Linked DNA regions of Homo sapiens: all the other regions are linked to region 1. The links come from fine-mapping of genetic effects on gene expression. A gene starts in region 1. Each other region holds a variant in brackets. All regions are shown on one strand. Distances are from middle to middle. Region 1 holds the start of ATP6V1E1 (ATPase H+ transporting V1 subunit E1). Region 2 overlaps SLC25A18 (solute carrier family 25 member 18). Region 3 overlaps ATP6V1E1 (ATPase H+ transporting V1 subunit E1). Region 4 overlaps BCL2L13 (BCL2 like 13).

Evidence for each region. PIP is the estimated chance that this variant, and not a neighbour inherited with it, causes the effect.
Region 2: its variant is the best candidate, but not a certain one, in a credible set for the expression of ATP6V1E1 in stomach (GTEx, PIP 0.77).
Region 3: its variant is the best candidate, but not a certain one, in a credible set for the expression of ATP6V1E1 in whole blood (TOPMed, PIP 0.60).
Region 4: its variant is the best candidate, but not a certain one, in a credible set for the expression of ATP6V1E1 in whole blood (TOPMed, PIP 0.81).

What each region holds. Positions count from the first base shown.
Region 1 is chr22:17,626,604-17,631,785 of GRCh38, reverse strand. ATP6V1E1 (ATPase H+ transporting V1 subunit E1) reads left to right here and starts at 3,037. Exons shown (of 9, transcript NM_001696.4): 1 at 3,037-3,183. The coding sequence starts at 3,151. It also overlaps a transcript of BCL2L13 not described here. RefSeq lists enhancers at 2,912-3,081, 3,023-3,112, 3,193-3,342.
Region 2 is chr22:17,573,669-17,578,516 of GRCh38, reverse strand. All of the region lies in intron 2 of SLC25A18 (solute carrier family 25 member 18), which reads right to left. Among named protein-coding and RNA genes, the nearest start is that of SLC25A18, 13 kb to the right of the region's middle. The variant C/G (reference allele first, on the strand shown) is at 2,250.
Region 3 is chr22:17,592,676-17,596,675 of GRCh38, reverse strand. ATP6V1E1 (ATPase H+ transporting V1 subunit E1) reads left to right here. Exons shown (of 9, transcript NM_001696.4): 8 at 2,060-2,147; 9 at 3,940-4,000. Among named protein-coding and RNA genes, the nearest start is that of SLC25A18, 31 kb to the right of the region's middle. The variant C/A (reference allele first, on the strand shown) is at 1,722.
Region 4 is chr22:17,682,200-17,687,381 of GRCh38, reverse strand. BCL2L13 (BCL2 like 13) reads right to left here. Exons shown (of 7, transcript NM_015367.4): 3 at 4,061-4,168. Among named protein-coding and RNA genes, the nearest start is that of BCL2L13, 46 kb to the right of the region's middle. The variant A/G (reference allele first, on the strand shown) is at 2,670.

The DNA.
Region 1 (5,182 bases):
TGCGCCACTGCACTCCAGCCTGGGCAACAATAGCGAAACTCCATCTCAAAAAAAAAAAAAAAAAAAAAAAAAAAAAAAATATATATATATATATATATATATATATATATATATACACACACACACATACATACACACACGTACCATTCCTACTAAAAGGACAAAGAGCTGAGGTGGGAGGATCCCCTGAGCCCAGGAGTTCGAGACTAGCCTGACAAACACTGTAGGACTCTGTCTCAATTTTAAAAATAAAATTGAAAAAAAGGGACAAACGGACATCATGTACTTTCTGATGTGTTGCAAAGAGGACACAATATCACACATGTAGTACTCCTGCTATAATGCGTAACCTGAATCTAATTATGAGGAAACTGTCAAAACCCAATTGAGGCTGGGCGTGGTGGCTCACACCTGTCATCCCAGCACTTTGGGATGCCAAGGCAGGCAGATCATCTGAGCTCAGGAGTTCCAAGAACAGCCTGGCCAATGTGGCAAAACCCTGTTTCTACCAAAAAGAAAAAATTAGCGGGGCGTGGTGGCGGGCGCTTGTAATCCCAGCTACTGGAGAGGCTGAGGCAGGAAAATCTCTTGAACCCAGGAGGTGGAGGTTGCAGTGAGCCGAGTTTGCACCACTGCACTCCAGCATGAGCGACACTCTTCTGTCTCAAAAAAAAAAAAAATTGAGTGATTTTCTACAACTGGCCTATATTCTTCAAAATGTCACTATCAAGAAAGATAAGTCTGAGGAAACTCTTCCATATTAAAGGAGACTAAAAAGACATGATCACTAATGCAGTAAGTGACCCTGGATCCAATCCAGGTTATAAAGGTTATAAAGTAAGGTTATAAGAAGGTTATAAAAGGTTAAAAAGTAAGGTTATTAAAAAAAGGTTATGGCTGGGCGCGGTGGCTCACGTCTGTAATCCCAGCACTTTGGGAGGTGGAGGCAGGCAGATCACCTGAGGTCGGGAGTTCAAGACCACCCTGGCCAATGTGTTGAAACCCCATCTCTACTAAAAATGCAAAAATTAGCTGGGCGTGGTGGCAGATGCCTGTAATCTCAGCTACTGGGGAGGCTGAGGCAGGAGAATCAATTGAACCCGGGAGGCGGAGGTTGTGGTGAGCCGAGATTCTGCCACTGCACTCTAGCCTGGGCAACAGAGCGAGACTCCATCTCAAAAAAAAAAAAAAAAAGAAAAGAAAAAGAAGGCCGGGTGCAGTGGCTCACACCTGTAATCCCAGCACTCTCGGAGGCCGAGGCAGGTGGATCACGAGGTCAGCAGTTCAAGACCAGCCTGGCCAACACAGTGAAACCTCATCTCTACTAAAAATACAAAAATTAGCCATGCATGGTGGCAGGCACCTGTAATCCCAGCTGCTTGGGAGGCTGAGGGAGGAGAATCACTTGATCCCGGGAGGCAGAGGTTGTAGTGAGCTGACACCATGCCGTTGCACTGCAGCCTGGGCGACAGAGTGAGACTCTGTCTCAAAAAAAAAAGAAAGGGTTATAAAGTACATTGATGGATTGATGGGACAAAGGAATTTGTTTTTTTTTTTTTTGTTTTTTTGAGACGGAGTCTCACTCTTATTGCCCAGGCTGGAGTGCAGTGGCACGATCTTGGCTCACCGCAACCTCTGCTCCTGGGTTGAAGCAATTCTCCTGCCTCAGCCTCTCCAGTGGCTGGGATTACAGGCACACACCACCACGCCTGTTAATTTTGTATTTTTAGTAGAGACTGGGGTTTCTCCATGTTGGTCAGGCTGGTCTCGAAATCCCGACCTCAGGTGATCTGCCCACCTCAGCCTCCCAAAGTGGTGGGATTACAGGCGTGAGACACCGCGCCTGGCCCGGGACAAAGGAAATTAATGTTCAGCCTAGTAAACTAAATTTCCTGAATTTGCTACATCCTCGTTCTTATGACACACTAAAATAGGAAGTGTGTGTGTGTGTGTGTGTGTGTGTGTGTATGAAAATAAAGTGTTAATGTACATGTAGCAAAATGTTAACAATTGTTGAATCTAGGTGAAGGGAGGTCAATGCAGTATTCTTACAAGTTACTATATCTCAAATTTCTTCAAGATAAAAAGCTAATAAAAATGGTGGGTAACCATAGCACAGTAAAAAGAAAAAAGTGGGTGTACCATTTGACCTCTTATTCTACTATTAGGAGTCAGTCTATCCTAAAGATAAAGGAATTTTCAAAAGTTTTTGCCTTTGGGATTTTGGGGAAAAAAACGGGCTTGAGGTAAATCCAAATAAAAACAAATGAGCCTGGGGGGATTTCTGTCCTAATATTCCTCTAAATGGGACCTGGGAAGGCTTTTGAAAAATATATAGGCTATCTCAGAAAAGTTCCAAATAAATTATGTAGCTGCTCCACCCTAATAAGGAAGTTGAGCATAGCTTCCCACTCCCTAGGTGTGGGCTTTGTATAGTGGCTTCCTTCCTAAGACTACAGTATGGAAAGGGGGTTAAAAAAGGTAACTTCAGAGTGGAGAAACCTACAAACCCTACACTTTATTCAGGTAATCAAGGTTGACATGAATAGTCAGAAATCATGTATCCCCCTTTTTTTTTTCTTTTGGTAGAGACGGGGTTCCTCTATGTTGTCCAGCCTGGTCTCGAACTTGAGGTCAAGCGATACACCCGCCTTGGTCTCCCAAAGTCTCCGGATTGCAGGCGTGAGCCACCACGCCCGGCCAACAATCATGTACCCCTAAGCCCATAACCCTGTGTAATTATGCGAAAAATTCCAATAAAGGCACATTCTCCAATATACCTAACCAGTACTCCTCAAAACAGCCCGACTAATTTCAGATAGAGGAACTCCTTATCTTTTCTTCCTCCTACCCAAGATCCCAGTTTAGGAAAAAAATACCGGTCAGGTCACGAGTCAGCGACGTAGAAGGACCCGAGGACGCGCCCACAGGCCGGGACAGGGCGGGACTTCCTGGGCGTCGCTCTCTTCCCATTGGCTGAGAAGGGTCATGAGGATGAACTGTGCAGTCACCTGGCAGGAACCGGAACCCGCGGTTATAAAGTAAAGGAACCCGAGATCTGCGCAGGGGTTCCCTTTGCCGATTTCTCTCACCTCACCTTTCAAACCTAAACTCGAGCCTACTGTTCACCGGCCTAGCATTGCTCTCGCCATGGCTCTCAGCGATGCTGACGTGCAAAAGCAGGTGAGGGGCTTGGTTGGGTCTTACGAAGCCGCGGCGGCAGTCCCGGGGAGTGGGCTGGAGCCCGCCTAGGGAAGGCCGCGGGCCTTGAGCCGCCCAGATGCCGCAGGAAGGTCCCTTGCTCCAAGTCACCAGATCCAAGAGGTCGGCCTGAGGACGGAGATTTGCCCCGCAGCTCATGTGACTTTTGCTCGGGTCTTGGGCACTGCCCGCTTGCCTGCGCGCTGCCTTCTTGAACGCCCTGGCTCTTTGCCTCCCACCTCAGCATTCCCTGTTTTCCAAGGGTATTCACTGTGCCTAGTCGGACAGAGATCTGTGCAAGGATTGAAAACAGCCTTGTGGCCAGGGGCAGTGGCTCACGCCTGTAATCCCAGTATTTTGGGAGGCCGAGGCGGCCGGATCACCTGAGGTCAGGAGTCCGAGACTAGCCTGGCCAAAATGGTGAAACCCCGGTCTCTACTAAAAATAGAAAATTAGCCGGACGTGGTGGCGCGCGCCTGTAATCCCAGCTACTCGGGAAGCTGAACCCGGAGGCGGAGGTTGCAGTTAGCCGAGATCGCGCCTTTGCACTCCAGCATGGGCGACAGGGCGAGACTCCCTCTGGAAAAAGAAAAAAAAAAAACAAACCAGCCTTGTCACTTTTTTTTTTTTTAACCCTGAGGGAAATGCTTAAGGCTATATGATAGGAAACAGTGCGGAGGGAAGAGACCTGCTTCCAACCAGTGTTTTGACAAGGTCGTTCACTTTATGAACTGTGTTTTTTTCTTTTTTTCTTTTTTTTTTTTTTGAGACGGAGTCTCACTCTGTCGCCCAGGCTGGAGTGCAAGGGCGCGATCTCGGCTCACTGCAACCTCCGCCCCGGGTTCAAGTGATTCTCCTGCCTCAGCCTCCCTAGAAGCTGGGATTACAGACTCGCGCCCCAAGCCCGGCTAATTTTTGTATTTTTTTTAGTAGAGGCAGGGTCTCACCATATTGGCCTGGCTGGTCTTGAACTCCTGACCTCAGGTGATCTTCCCACCTGGGCCTCCCAAAGTGCTGGGATTACAGGCATGAGCCAACGCGCCAGGCCTGTATGTACTGTTAATCTTCATTTTGGGGAAGTCCCCTCTATCATAATGGATTGTAATGATTGGTCTCCCACTAATGTGTGTGTTAACATTTGTGAGATACAGGCTGGGGCCGGGCATGGTGGCTCACGTCTGTAATACCAGCACTTTGGGAGGCTGAGGAGGGCGGATCACCTGAGGTCAGGAGTTCGAGACGAGCCTGGCCAGCATGGTGAAACCCCATCTCTATTAAAAATACAAAAAATTAGCCGGGCATGGTGGCGGGCGCCTGTAGTCCCAGCTACTCGGGAGGCTGAGGCAGGAGAATGGCGTGAACCCGGGAGGCCGAGCGACCCTGGGCGGCAGAGCGAGACTCCCTCTCAAAAAAATAAAAAAAAAAAGATTGTCTGGGCCTAGTGGGGTGCGCCTGTAGTCCCAGCTACTCAGGAGGCAGAGGCAGGAGAATCGCTTGAACCCGGCAGGCGGAGGTTGCAGTGAGCCAAGATTGTGCCACTGCACTCCAGCCTGGGTGACAGAGTGAGACTCCATCTCAAAAAATTTTAATATTAATAAACACAAATACACGCCAGGTGTGGTGGCTCACACCTGTAGCCCCCAGCACTTTGGGAGGCTGAGGTGGGAGGATCGCTTGATCCCAGGAGTTCAAGACCAGCCTGGGCAACATAGACCTTATCTCTAAAAAATTTTTTCTTAAAAAATAAGCCAGGCTGTCTGGGCATGGTTGCTCATGCCTGTAATCCCAGCACTTTGGAAGGCCGAGGTGGGCATATCACCTGCGGTCAGGAGTTCCAGACCAGCCTGGCCAACGTGGCAAAACCCTGTCTCTACTAAAAATACAAAATTAGTGGGGCGTGCTGGCATATGCCTGTAATCCCAACTACTAGGAGGCTGAGGCAGGAGAATTTCTTGAACCCGGGAGGTGGAGGTTATGGTGA
Region 2 (4,848 bases), 53 kb after region 1:
CCAGCTCTCCTGCACTCCTCACTGCTCTCCAGCAATTGAGAGACTGGTTGCCAGCAATTCTTTGCTGTCTCCAGCTATTTTGTTTTGGGTAAGAAAAGAGAGGAGGGGTGGGGGAGACATTAGTCTTTCTCTTGGTGCTACACTAATCCATTCAGGAAGACATTTGCTGAGTGCTGGGCACTGCTCCAGGTCTGGTGACATAGTAGTGAACAAAATACACATTCTAGTTCTCAAGGACTTAAGTTTGGCCGGGAACAGTGGCTCACGCCTGTAATTCCAACACTTTGGGAGGCTGAGGCGGGTGGATCGCCTGAGCCCAGGAGTTCAAGACCAGCCTGGGCAACATAGTGAAACCCCGTCTTTACAAAAATACAAAAAATTAGCTGGCCATGGTGGCCCAGCTACTCAGGAGGCTGAGATGGGAGGATTATTTGAGGCCAGGAGGTGGAGGTTGCAGTGAGTCAAGATCACACCACTACACTCCAGCCTGGGCAACAGAGCGAAACCCTATGCCCCCCAAAGAAGAAAAAAAAAAAAAGAAGCAGGGCGCAGTGGCTCATGCCTGTAATCCCAACACTTTGGAAGGCTGAGGACGGCAGATCACCTGAGGTCAGGAGTTCGAGACCAGTCTGGGCAACATGGTGAAACCCCGTCTCTACTAAAAATATAAAAATTGGCTGGGCATGGTGGCGGGAGGATCACAAGGTCAGGAGTTCGAGACCAGCCTGGCCAACATAGTGAAACTCCATCTCTACTAAAAACACAAAAATTAGCGGGGAATGGTGGTGTGCGCATGTAGTCCCAGCTACTCAGGAGGCTGAGGCAGGAGAATGGCATGAACCTGGGAGGCAGAACTTGCAGGGAGCCGAGATCGCACCACTGCACTCCAGCCTGGGTGACACAGCGAGCCTCCATCTCAAAAAAAAAAAAAAAAAAATAGACAGGACACAACTGTTTCTGTCTGAAGCCAGGGAGTCCAATAATTGAGAACATTGTGACTGCTCTTATAATCATATTCCCTGCTGTTTCTAGAACTAAATTACTACTTTAGAAACTGTGGGCCGGGTGCGGTGGCTCACACCTATAATCTCAGCACTTTGGGAGGCTGAGGCGGGCGGATCACCTGACGTCAGGAGTTTGAGAACAGCCTGACCAACATGGAGAAACCCCATCTCTACTAAAAATACAAAAAATTAGCTGGGCTTGGAGGCTCACGCCTATAATCCCAGCACTTTGGGAGGCTGAGGCGGGCGGATCACAGGGCCAGGAGATCGAGACCATCCTGGCTAACATGGTGAAACCCCGTCTCTACTAAAAATACAAAAAATTGGCCGGGTGTGGTGGTGGGCGCCTGTCGTCCCAGCTACTTGGGAGTCTGAGGTAGGAGAATGGCGTGAACCCGGGAGGCGGAGCTTGCAGTGAGCCGAGATGGTGCCACTGCACTCCAGCCTGGGTGACACAGTGAGACTCTGTCCCCCACCCCAAAAAAATTAGCCAGGTGCGGTGATGGGCACCTATAATCCCAGCTACCTGGGAGGCTGAGGCAGGAGAATCGCTTGAACCCAGGAGGCGGAGGTTGCAGTGAGCCAAGATCACGCCACTGCACTCCAGCCTGGGCTACTGGAATAGGGGTATTTAACAGATGCCAGAGAAATTAGGGACACCCTAATCCCAGGGCCACTCCATAGCATAGCTAACAGATGTGATAATGTTTCCACCCACGGAGAGCACTTGGCTGGAGGGTGAGCCTCCCTACCCTGAGGCTGTACCAAGCTGCTGCAGTTCCAGCCCCGGAAGTTCCCTTTCGCAGGCCTATGCTAATCAAAGCCTATGACTTGACAAGATTCCTGGCAGCAGTAAATGCATTAGTAACAGGCAACAAAGGCGAAACCATTAGCCAGGCAAGGTATGAAAGGAGTCATAGCACCATGAAAACCCCAAACCTGGCACCAGGGCCGATAACTGCCCCCCAAGGCAACCCACAAGCCTAAGTGTTAGTCACGCTACAGATATTTGTTGAGTGATTACTGTATGCCATTTGCAGTTCTAAGCAGCAGGGACACAGCTGGGGAACAAAGCAAGGCCTTGCCCTCCACAGAATTGAATTCCTACTGGTTCCGGCACTGATGGGAATAGACTTCTTTTTTTTTTCTTTTTTTTTTTGAGACGGAGTCTCACTCTGTCGTCCAGGCTGGAGTGCAGTGGTGCGATCTTGGCTCACTGTGTAACCTCCGCCTCCTGGGTTCAAG[C/G]TATTCTCCTGCCTCAGCCTCCTGAGTAGCTGGGACTACAGGCTCACACCACCACGAATGGCTAATTTTTGTATTTTTAGTAGAGATGGGGTTTCACCATGTTGGCCAAGATGGTCTCCATCTCCTCACCTCCTGATCTGCCCGCCTCAGCCTCCCAAAGTGCTGGGATTACAGGCATGAGCCACCATGCCCGGCCTCCTCTACCTTCTTTTCTGAAGGAATTTAGAGGGTGTAGGGGGTATTGGGGTAGAAAAGATCATCTAAGTGCTGGGATGCAGAACAATGAGAAAACACATCTGGAACTCTTTGGAAACAAAGTGGGAAAGGACTAGAAAAGCAGCCAGCTGGAAGACAGAGGCTCCCTGTCACCGCCTTGGGATGCAGCATCTGGCCATGACATTGTGTCACTGTGCACTGGGAAGACAAGTGCATTCACAATTTACATGTGATAACTGAATCATATTGAGAAGAAGAAATTTGATACACGGGAAATAGCATGTTTGCATGTTCTTAGTGTCAAAAGGTGGAATGCAGTGGGTGAGCATACCCCATTCTAGGACTTGCCCTTTCCCCCTTGCTATTCCGGGTTAGTTGCACTGGGAACTGCCACGTCCCTGGAACTCCATCCCCTGGCTACTGTTCACTGTGTAAGGATGGAGACCTGACTTAAGCTGAATGATTCAACCCCTTCCATAGGAATTTTTAAAGTGTATGCAGCCTCTTTTAGGGGCATTTTACCTGTAACAGATAAAACTTGGGGCCCATCAGCAAACTTGTCACATGATTGAGGAAACAGAGATAAATAAAGCAGACCCGCAGAGATGATGCAAGGCGGGAGAGACTTCTGCCTTATTACTGCACAGCGATCCACTTTATTCCTGACCTTGACCACAAAAAGGGTCTCCCACTATGCTTCTAATGAGGTGACTTATTGTCTTAAGATAGTAGAGTTCTGTAACTTGGTAACCAAAGAGTGCTTAATAAATACATTTTTAAAACCCTCACATTCCATTTAATGGCAACTGAGCGGCTTAGACAGTGCGTGCTGAAAGGCTCAGAGGTGTGCAGAGTCACTAAGGGCTGGCTTGGAGAAGTGGGACTTAAAGAATAAGAGAGCACGGGGCACAGTGGCTCACACCTGTAATCCCAGCACTGTGGGAGGCCGAGGCAGGTGGATCACCTGAGGTCACGAGTTTGAGACTAGCCTGGCCAATGTGGTGAAACCCGGTCTCTACTAAAAATGTAACAATTAGCTGGGCGTGGTGATGCATGTCTGTAATCCCAGGTACTCAGAAGGCTGAGGCAGGAGAATCGCTTGAACCTGGGAGGCGGAGGTTGCAGTGAGTTGAGATCGCACCACTGCACTCTAGCCTGGGCGACAGAGCGAGACTCCATCTCAAAAAATACATATATAAATAATAATAATAATAATAATAAAGGGAACATTGGCCAGGCACAGTGGCTCACGCCTGTGATACCAGCATTCTGGGAGGCCGAGGGTGGGTGGATCAGGAGGTCAGGAGTTCGAGACCAGCCTGGCCAACATAGTGAAACTCCGTCTCTACTAAAAACACAAAAATCAGTCAGGCGAGACGTGATGGCACGTGCCTGTAATCCCAACTGCTCGGGAGGCTGACGCAGGAGAATCGCTTGAACCCGGGAGGTGGTGATTGCAGTGAGCCGAAACGACGCCATTGCACTCTAGCCTGGGCGACAGAGCAAGACTCCATCTCAAAAAAAAAAATAAAAAAAAAAAAGAATAAGGAAGCATTTAAAAGCAGAAGGTGGGGCGTGCAGACCCTGGATGTGGGCTTGGTGTGAGCAGAGGGTTCAGGGAACAGAACTGTGGGAAGGAGGCTGCAAAGGCAGGTTAGGCCACACGTGGGGAGCCTGGGTGGCTAGAGACAGCATGTGCCCTCCTAAAAGGGAATTTTTTTGTTTTCTTTTTGATTGGCATTTTCACAACATGAAAAGTGAATTTTTAAATGTGATCCTGTAGGCAGTAACAAAACACTGAATACTTCTTTTTTTCAGGGGACAAGATCTGGCTCTGTTGCCCAGGGTGGAGCGCCGTGGCGCAATCTCAGCTCACTGCAACCTCTGCTTCCCAGGCTCAAGCGATCCTCCCACCTCAGCCTCCCAAGGAGTTGGGACCATAGGTGTATGACACCATGTCAGGCTATTTTTTTAAAAAAAATTTTTGTAGAGATGGGTTTTGCCATGTTGCCCAGACTGGTCTTGAACTCCTGAGCTCAGCTGATCCGCACACCTCCACCTCCCGAAGTGTCGGGATTACAGGCGTGAGCCACACTGAATGCTTTTAAGGGGGAAAATACCACATTGAATGTAGTATGAGGACAGTTATTCTGGAAGAATGGGTTGAGGGGAGTCAGTGAGAGGCCAATTAGGAGACCCTTCAGAGTAAAACAATGAAGTGGAGAGGGAGGGATTAGGGAGAAGGGGTAGAGAACAAGGGTTACTGGGAGAGAACTTTGTAGAGAGCCTTGGTGACTGTCCAGGGCTGAACCGCAGAGAACCATGGAGCTGTCTCAGCTCTGAGGTGAGGAATGAAGGATGCAAGTTAGGAACCGAAGCTGCC
Region 3 (4,000 bases), 35 kb after region 1:
GGACTCGTTTATTCAGTTTCATTGAGTGGTGTCGTCCATTTAGTGTTGCTATAACAGAATACCCGAGGCTGGGTAATTCATGGAGAAAAGAGGTTTATTTGGTTCATGATTCTCATGGCTGGAAAGTTCAAGATTGGACAGCTGCATCTGGTGAGGGCCTCAGGCTGCTTCCACTCATGGCAGAAGGTGGAAGGGGAGTGGGTGTGTGCATAGAGACCACATGGCGAGAGAGGAGGCCAGAGAGCCTAGGGAACCAGACTCCCTATCATACCAGCCCACCCTCTGCTCACAGTCGAGTCCTGCCGGAGCTAGAATCCAGGCCCTCGCCACAGTTCATTGCCTCGGGATCTGCCCTTGAGCCCTGAACACCTCCTACTATGCTCCACCTCCCAACACTGCCACATTGAGAATCAAATTTCACCATTAGTTTCTGAGGGAACAGACTCAAACCATAGTAGTGAGCCCTGATTCCCTTATCTGTAAATTGACGTATTAGCACTAACCTCATAGCATTTTTTATCTTATTTATTTATTTATTTATTTTTTGAGACAGAGTCTCACTCTCACCCAGGCTGGAGTGCAGTGGCACGACCTCGGCTCACTGCAAGCTCCACCTCCCAGGTTCACACCATTCTCCTGCCTTAGCCTCCCGATTAGCTGGGACTACAGGCACCCGCCACCATGCCTCGCTAATTTTTTTTGTATTTTTAGTAGAGACGGGGTTTCACCTTGTTAGCCAGGATTGTCTCAATCTCCTGATGTCGTGATCTGCCCACCTCGGCCTCTCAAAGAGCTGGGATTACAGGCGTGAGCCACCGCACCCAGCCTCTTTTTTTGTTGTTGTTGTTGTATTTTGAGTAAGGGTCTCTTTCTGTCACCCAAGCTGGAGTGCAGTGGTGTGATCTCGGCTTGCTGCAACCTCTGCCTCCTGGGTTCAAGCAATTCTCCTGCCTCAGTCTCTCAAGTAGCTGGGACTACAGGCACGCCCCACCATGCCCAGCTAATTTTTGTATTTTTAGTGGAGACAGGCTTTCGCCATGTTGGCCAGGCTGGCCTCAAACTTGAGTTTGGGAGCACCTCGGCCTCCCAAAGTGCTGGGATTACAGGGGTGAGCTACCACGCCCGGCCAGCAGTGGCATCTTTTATCAGACACACATGCAGTCGTGATAGGGCCTCATCAGTAATGAGCAGGATTGGGCTTAAGAAAACATTCAGATGAGGATTGAGTGATTTGCAAACTGAGATGAAATCCTCTCTTTTTCATTTTGTTGGGGAGGGCTGGCTGTGATAATTAAAACAGGTTTTGTAACATAAAATCAAATTGACACAGGCTGGGCGCGGTGACTCACTCCTGTAATCCCAACACTTGTGGAGGCAGAGGTGGGCGGATCACCTGAGGTCAGGAGTTCAAGACCAGCCTGGCCAACATGGTGAAACCCCGTCTCTACAACAATACAAAAATTAGCCAGGCGTGATGGCAGGTGCCTGTAATCCCAGCTACTGGGGAGGCTGACGCAGGAGAATTGCTTGAACTCGGGAGGCAGAGGTTGCAGTGAGCCAAGATCGCACCATTGCACTCCTGCCTGGGCAACAGAGCGAGTCTCAAAAAAAACAAAACAAATTGACACATAGTGTCACTTGGTAAATGACAGTTATTGAGATGAATACAGTCAGTTCTCTGTATCTTTGGGGTCCACACCTGTGAATTCAACCAACTTTTT[C/A]TTTTCACTCCCTAAACACTACGGTATAACAACCATTTACATCGTATTAGCTATTTTAAGTGCTGTAGACATGATTTGCAATATAGGGGAGGATGTGTGATGGTTGTATGCAAATACTACGCTGTTTCATATAATGGACATCTAGGCGGGGACTGGGGTTTCCTGAAACCAACTGTGCGTTACATCTTCAGAAGCTTTTTCAGTTCCTTTCAAGCCTGTTGCTTAGGTTGCGCAGTCTACACACCAAGACAAGGGCATTCCTCTGCGGGAGTAAAGGGTACCATGTATCTTTCTCAAGTCTTTGAAAATGATTATTTCCTGTGCTTTTTTTTTTGCAGAGCTGGTGGAGTTGAGATCTATAATGGAGATCGTAAAATAAAGGTTTCCAACACCCTGGAAAGCCGGCTGGATCTCATAGCCCAGCAGGTGAGTGTGGGGGTACTTCTTGGTAGTTGGTCTGCTGTTACTTTGAAGTGGGACAGAGAACACGTGTCCATTCACTGGTATTTGGGATTTGTTGCTGTCTTTCCAGTTTTGGACATTTTCTCAAAAAGAATGAGAATTGGGCATGTAGTAGCATTTGCTGAGGTGGTAACATTTACATGAGGGTGAATTTGGGGTCAGAACAAGTGTTTTGTTGACCTAGGATTCGAATATGTACATTTTACTACATGTAAGGTGCTGACAAGTTCTTTCTCTAACAGGAGTGATGGGAACTAAAGCAAATACTTGTGTTTTTTTGTTTTGTTTTGCTTTTTTGAGATGGAGTTTCACTCTTTTTTGCGCAGGCTGGAGTGCAGTCTTGGCTCACTGCAACTTCCACCTCCCAGGTTCAAGCGATTCTCCTGCTTCAGCCTCCCGAGTAGCTGGGATTACAGGCACCTGCCACCACACCCGGCTAATTTTGTATTTTTAGTAGAGACGGGGTTTCACCATGTTGGCCAGGCTGTTATCAAATTCCTGACCTCAGGTGATCCACCCGCCTTGGCCTCCCAAAGTGCTGGGATTACAGGTGTGAGCCACCGTGCTCAGACACAAATACTTATTTAAAGGAATTATCATAAAGCTGCTGGCTTTTCAGATGTTTCCAGATTTGTACACAGGAACTCTAGGAAACAAGCCAGGAAAATTCCATTTGTTCTAAAATGCTGGGCATCTTCTAGACTTCTAGTGGGAGTCTATTGCTGTGGCTGCCAACCTAGTTATTCCCTGACCTAGATATGCAGTTTACTGTTTATGCAGATACTTGTCTTATAACTAAAGCACTTTCACCTTGATTTTTTCATATTCTGGTAACTTAAACCTCAGAACATTGTTTCCTAGTAGCCACTGTCCCATCCAGTATCATAGCCACTACTCACTTACGGATATTTAATTAAACCGAAAAATTCAGTTTCTCAGCACACAATAACCATCTGTAGCTAGGACTGCCCTGTTGGACAGCCGAGCCTTGGAAGTCCAGGGTTAAGTTCTCCTAAGGATTCATCAGTGGCTGTAGCAAGTGCTTCCAGCCTAAGCTGGCATTGGAAGTGTTCTTTGCAGCTGCTGTGGCCATAGTAGGCACTCAGTAAATGTTTGTTGAAGAAAGAGTGTAGGTGACCCAGCATATTGTGGTGAGATGATTATGATGAGTTAAGTCTGAGATAGTAGTGACTTTAGGTTTTTTTTTGTTTTGTTTTTTTTTAATGTGTCCCTTTTGTAAGCAGTCTGAACCCCAGATTTGGGATGAGTTAAGTTTCTCACCAAGGAATGTGTTACTTGCTTCAGGGAAGGAGAGGGTGGCTTTGATGTGCGTGGCTTTGTGAGTCCTTCCCAGCCACATAGAGGTTCATGGCTTTCCACCTGTGGTTAAGATGTGCAGCACTCTGGCCAGGCTTGGTGGCTCACGCCTGTAATCCCAGCACTGTGGGAGGCCGAGGCGGGTGGATCACGAGGTCAGGAGATCGAGACCATCCCGGCTAACATGGTGAAACCCCGTCTCTACTAAAAATACAAAAAAATTAGCCAGGCATGGTGGCAAGCACCTGTAGTCCCATCTACTTGGGAGGCTGAGGCAGGAGAATGGCGTGAGCTTGCAATGAGCGGAGATGCGCCACTGCACTCCAGCCTGGGCGACAGAGCGAGACTCCGTCTCAAAAAAAAAAAAAAAAAAAAGATGTGCAGCGCTCTACAACTTCTTCAGCTGACATTGCGTATTTATTACACTTTCTCTCCACAGATGATGCCAGAAGTCCGGGGAGCCTTGTTTGGTGCAAATGCCAACAGGAAGTTTTTGGACT
Region 4 (5,182 bases), 56 kb before region 1:
CAACAAAGTGAGACTCTGTCTCCCCAAAAAATAACCAAATTAATTAAATAAAAATAAAATAAAACTTGAATCCAGAAAAAGCAGTCATAACTTGTTGTAGACACTTAACCATTCCCTAACTGCAGGAAGAGCAAGCAGAGTAACTTGTTCCAGAGTACAAATGCGATGCAAGGCATCAGCTACCAGGAAAGCAGGCCGCTTGCACCCACTCCCAAGATTTAGCCGTCATCTGCATTAAGTATTTATTGCATTAATCTAACGCTTACTCCTATAAGGCTGCAAATTTTACTATAAAGTATGTGTTTCTTTATAAAGTGCTTGCCTCCGAGAAAGATGCAAATGGCTGCAAAGTTCACAAATACTTTGTTGTTTGAGCAAGCTGGAGAGCATCCATTTTAATGGTCTAACTTAGATAATATGGGGTTCAATAAGTGAACGTATTTTAAACCTTTTGTTACTCTCTTCTTCTTTCTACCTTTTGCCCATTTTACTATGCAGCAGTGCTGTTACCAGAATATACATGAAGAGAATCAGAAATTTAATCATTTCAAAATGTTGATAAAGAAATATAATGGTCGGGCACAGTGTTTCACACCGGTAATCCCAGCACTTTGGGAGGCCGAGGCGGGTAGATCACAAGGTCAGGAGATCGAGACCAGCCTGACCAACGTGGTGAAACCCCACCTCTACTAAAAATACAAAAATTAGCCAGGCATGGTGGCGGGCGCCTATAATCCCAGCTACTCAGGAGGCTGAGGCAGGAGAATCACTTAAACTCGGGAGGCGGAGGTTGCAGTGAACTGAGATCGCACCACTGCACTCCAGCCTGGGTGACAGAGCGAGACTCTGTCTCAAAAAAAAAAAGAAAAAAAAAGAAATATAAAAGACAAGACTAACATTAGGTTTCAGGATTATTTGTACATTTCATTTTTTTTAAATGGTCTCACTCTGTCACCCAGCCTGGAGTACAGTGGCATGATCTTGGCTCACTACAACCTATGCTTCCTGGGTTCAAGAGATTCTCATGCCTTAGCCTCCGAGGTAGCTGGAATTACAGGTGTGCACCACCATGCCTGGCTAATTTTTTTGTATTTTTATAGAGGCAGGGTTTCACCATGTTGGCTGGGGTCATCTCAAACTCCTGGCCTCAAGTGATCCACCCACTTCAGCCTCCCAAAGTGCTGGGACTACAGGCACCGCACCTGGTCTCGGGATTATTTGTACATTTCTATCTGTGTTTTTTCTCTACTAACGAGGAACATGAGTTATGAACATAATTTATAATTTTGATCATTAAAAATTATTGGGCAGGCTGGGTACGGTGGCTCACGCCTGTAATCCCAGCACTTTGGGAGGCTGAGGTGGGCGGGTCATGAGGTCAGGAGATCAAGAACATCCTGGCTAACACGGTGAAACCCCGTCTCTACTAAAAATTACCAAAAGAGTAGCTGGGTGTGGTGGTGGGCACTGTAGCTCCAGCTACTCAGGAGGCTGAGGCAGGAGAATGGCGTGAAGCTGGGAGGCGGAGCTTGCAGTGAGTCGAGATCCCGCCACTGCACTCCAGCCTGGGCAACAGAGCGAGACTTTGTCTCAAAAAAAAAAAAAAAAAAAAAAAAAAAAAGAAAAAGAAAAAATTATTGGGCAATATATGTCCACACAAAAACTTGCACAAGAATATTCACAGCAGCATTATACATAATAGTAAACAAGTAGAAACAACCTAAATTTCCATTAACTAATGAATGAATAAACAAAATATGACACATCCACACAGTGGAATATTATTTGACTGTAAAAAGTAATGAAGTACTGATACATGCTACAACATGGATGACCCTTGAAAACATTATGCTAAGTCGGCCAGGTGCAGTTGTTCACGCCTGTAATCCCAGCACTCTGGGAGGCCGAGACAGGTGGATCATTTGAGGTCAGGAGTTGGAGACCAGCCTGGCCAATATGGTGAAACCCCGTCTCTACTAAAAACAAAAATTAGCTGGGCGTGGTGGTGGGTACCTGTAATCCCAGCTATTCAAGAGGCTGAGGCTGGAGAATTGCTTGAACCTTAAAGTCGGAGGTTGCAGTGAGCCCAGATCATGCCACTGCATGCCAGCCTGTGCAACAGAGCAAGGCGATGTCTTAAAAAACAGCAACAACAACAAAAATACATTATGCTAAGTAAAAAATGCCAGTCACAAAAGACCACATAGTGGCCAGGCGCAGTGGATCACGCCTTTAATCCCAGCACTTTGGGAGACCGAGGTGGGCGGATCACCTGAGGTCAGGAGTTCAAGACCAGCCTGAGCAACATGGAGAAACCTTGTCTCTATTAAACGTACAAAAAATTACAGGCCGGGCGTGGTGGCTCATGCCTGTAATCCCAGCACTTTGGGAGGCCAAGGCGGGCAGAAAACAAGGTCAGGAGATCAACGAGACCATCCTGGCTAACACGCTGAAACCCCGTCTCTACTAAAAATACAAAAAATTAGTCGGGTGTGGTGGCAGGCGCCTGTAGTCCCAGCTACTCGGGAGGCTGAGGCAGGAGAATGGCCTGAACCCAGGAGGCGGAGCTTGCAGTGAGCCAAGATCCCGCCACCGCACTCCAGCCTGGGCAAAGAGCCAGACTCTGTCAAAAAAAAAAAAAATACAAAAAATTAGCCAGGTTTGGTGGC[A/G]CATACCTGTAATCCTGGCTACTCAGGAGGCTGAGACAGGAGAATCATTTGAACCTGGGAGATGGAGGTTGTGGTGGGCCGAGATGGTGCCACTGCACTCCAGCCTGGGCAATGAGAGCGAAACTGCATCTCAAAACACCACCACCACCACCACATAGTGAACTATTCTATTTATGTATATTTCCAGAATAGGCAAATCAATAAAAACAGAATGGAGATCAGTGGGTGCCTGGTGTGGGGTGGGGTTGGGGCCTGGGGCTAGTGGGAATGGGAAGTGGCTGCTAATGTGTATTGTGTTTCTTTAAGGAGAACCGAAAGTGTTCTAAATTTAGATCATGGTGATAAATTCTGTGAATACACTACAACCACTGAATTGTACTTTATTATTATTATTATTTATTTAATAAATAGAGACATGGTCTCCCTATGTTGCCCAGTGTGGTTTTGAACTCAGGGGCTCAAGCAACCCTCCTGAGGCCTTGGCCTCCCACAGTGCTAGAATTACAGGCATGAGTCCCTGTGCCCAGACTGAACTGGACCTTTTAAATGGGTGAATTTTATGGTATGTAAAATATATCTCAATAAAGCTGTAAAAATATATTTATATCATTGGGTAAGATGTTCAGTGCAGCATTACCTATGGAAGACAAAACCGGAAATAATGCAAATGCTGTGTAGTCGTCGTCCAGTGAAAAAAGGAATAATAATCCAAATGCTCCCCTCAATAACAAGGGAACAGGCCAGGCATGGTGGCTTACACCTGTAATCCCAGTGCTCACTACTGCACTCCAGCCTGGGCAACAGAGCAAGACCCTGTCTCTGAAATAGTAATAATAATAATAATAATAATAATAATAATAATAATAATGGAATGACTGAGTAAAAACATTTATTCAGTGAATGAAATTTCACGCAGTTAGTAGAGTAACTATTTTTAAAGTTTATGTTGTAATGTTAAGTGCAAAATAAAATGGCTATAAAGTTGAATGTACATTATAATTACAGTTATCTATAGTATATATGTATGCAAAAATAAAAGCGTATGCTTACTTTTTCCTTTTTATGTCGTTATTACTTATAAAGGTAATACTAAATACAAATCAAACCATAGTGAATGGAAAGAACCTTAACATGATCATTTATCCGATACTTAACATGAGAAACTGCTACATCTAACCTGTTAGGTATAGTTGGGGAACTTCCATCAACATATCCTCCAGGAAAGAAAAAAGGCTACCTTCTAGTTTTACCCTTATAAACTTCTACCAATGTATAATTGGTGTAAGTTGTTAACTGTTGAGAATACCCCACTGTAAAAATCAAATTAAACCAACAGTAAACCATAACAAACACAATCTGCTTATTAACTAGAAAAATAAGAATAAACAGACCTTCAGAAATTTCTTTGTCCAGAGATTTTAGCTCTTCTTCAATTTCAGTTTTAACTTTTAATAAAATTTCTTGATCCAGAGATTGTGAAGCTATATCTAGTTGAACCCCTGAAAGCAACAAAAAAGGTTATTATTGAAAGAGGGAGAGAGAAACCATTAGAATATAATAGCACTTTTTTTTTTTTTTTTGAGACGGAGTCTCGCACTGTCACTGGGGCTGGAGTGCAATGGCATGATCTCCGCTCACTGCAACCTCTGCCTCCTAGGTTCAAGCGATTCTCCTGCCTCAGCCTCCCAAGTAACTGGGATTATAGGCGCCTGCCACCACGCCTGGCTAATTTTTTTGTATTTTTAGTAGAGACAGGTTTCACTATGTTGGCCAGGCTGGTCTCGAACTCCTGACCTTGTGATCCGCCTGCCTCGGCCTCCCAAAGTGCTGGGATTTCAGGCGTAAGCCACTGCACCCAGCCCTACAATAGCAATTTGTTAAGCCAAAAAATGCAAAATCAAAATTCATTATCAAAATTAGGGACGGGAGGAAATCCTTTTTGCAATAATTAAAAAACAAAAATCAAAAACAACCTTTAGTAGAAATATTTGGGCCTATGGATTGAGAGTGAGTAAGTCTCCACCTTTCCAGATGTTTCTGCCAGAAACAGGGAAATTGAGCTGAATCTTCAGAAACACATTAACTCAAGAGGAGGTTGGGAAAGATGTATCAATAAGTCGGGCCAGTCCTCTCTTTTTGTAGACAATGTATCCTTTTTAAAAAGTATGAAGATGGAATATGATAAAAACAAAAAGAATTCATGCTATTAATATTTCAGTGGTGGTGGGAGATGTCCATTCCCCCCACTTCAAATTATATAGATCCCTAATTGTATCTCACTTTTGGACACATTTTTAGATGATATACTTCTAGCATTTTATACATGCTTTGTAATTTTCTTTCTTTTCTTCCCCCAACCCTGCCCACAACAGTTAGTTGACTGCTGCTTAAGTCCACAAAGCACACAACTGAGGCTAAAATTCCACCACTGTGGGCATAACGATTTCTTTGTACCAATCACATTAGATTTATGAGTTATGCTCATCACCAGTCTCTCATGCTTATTACTGGTT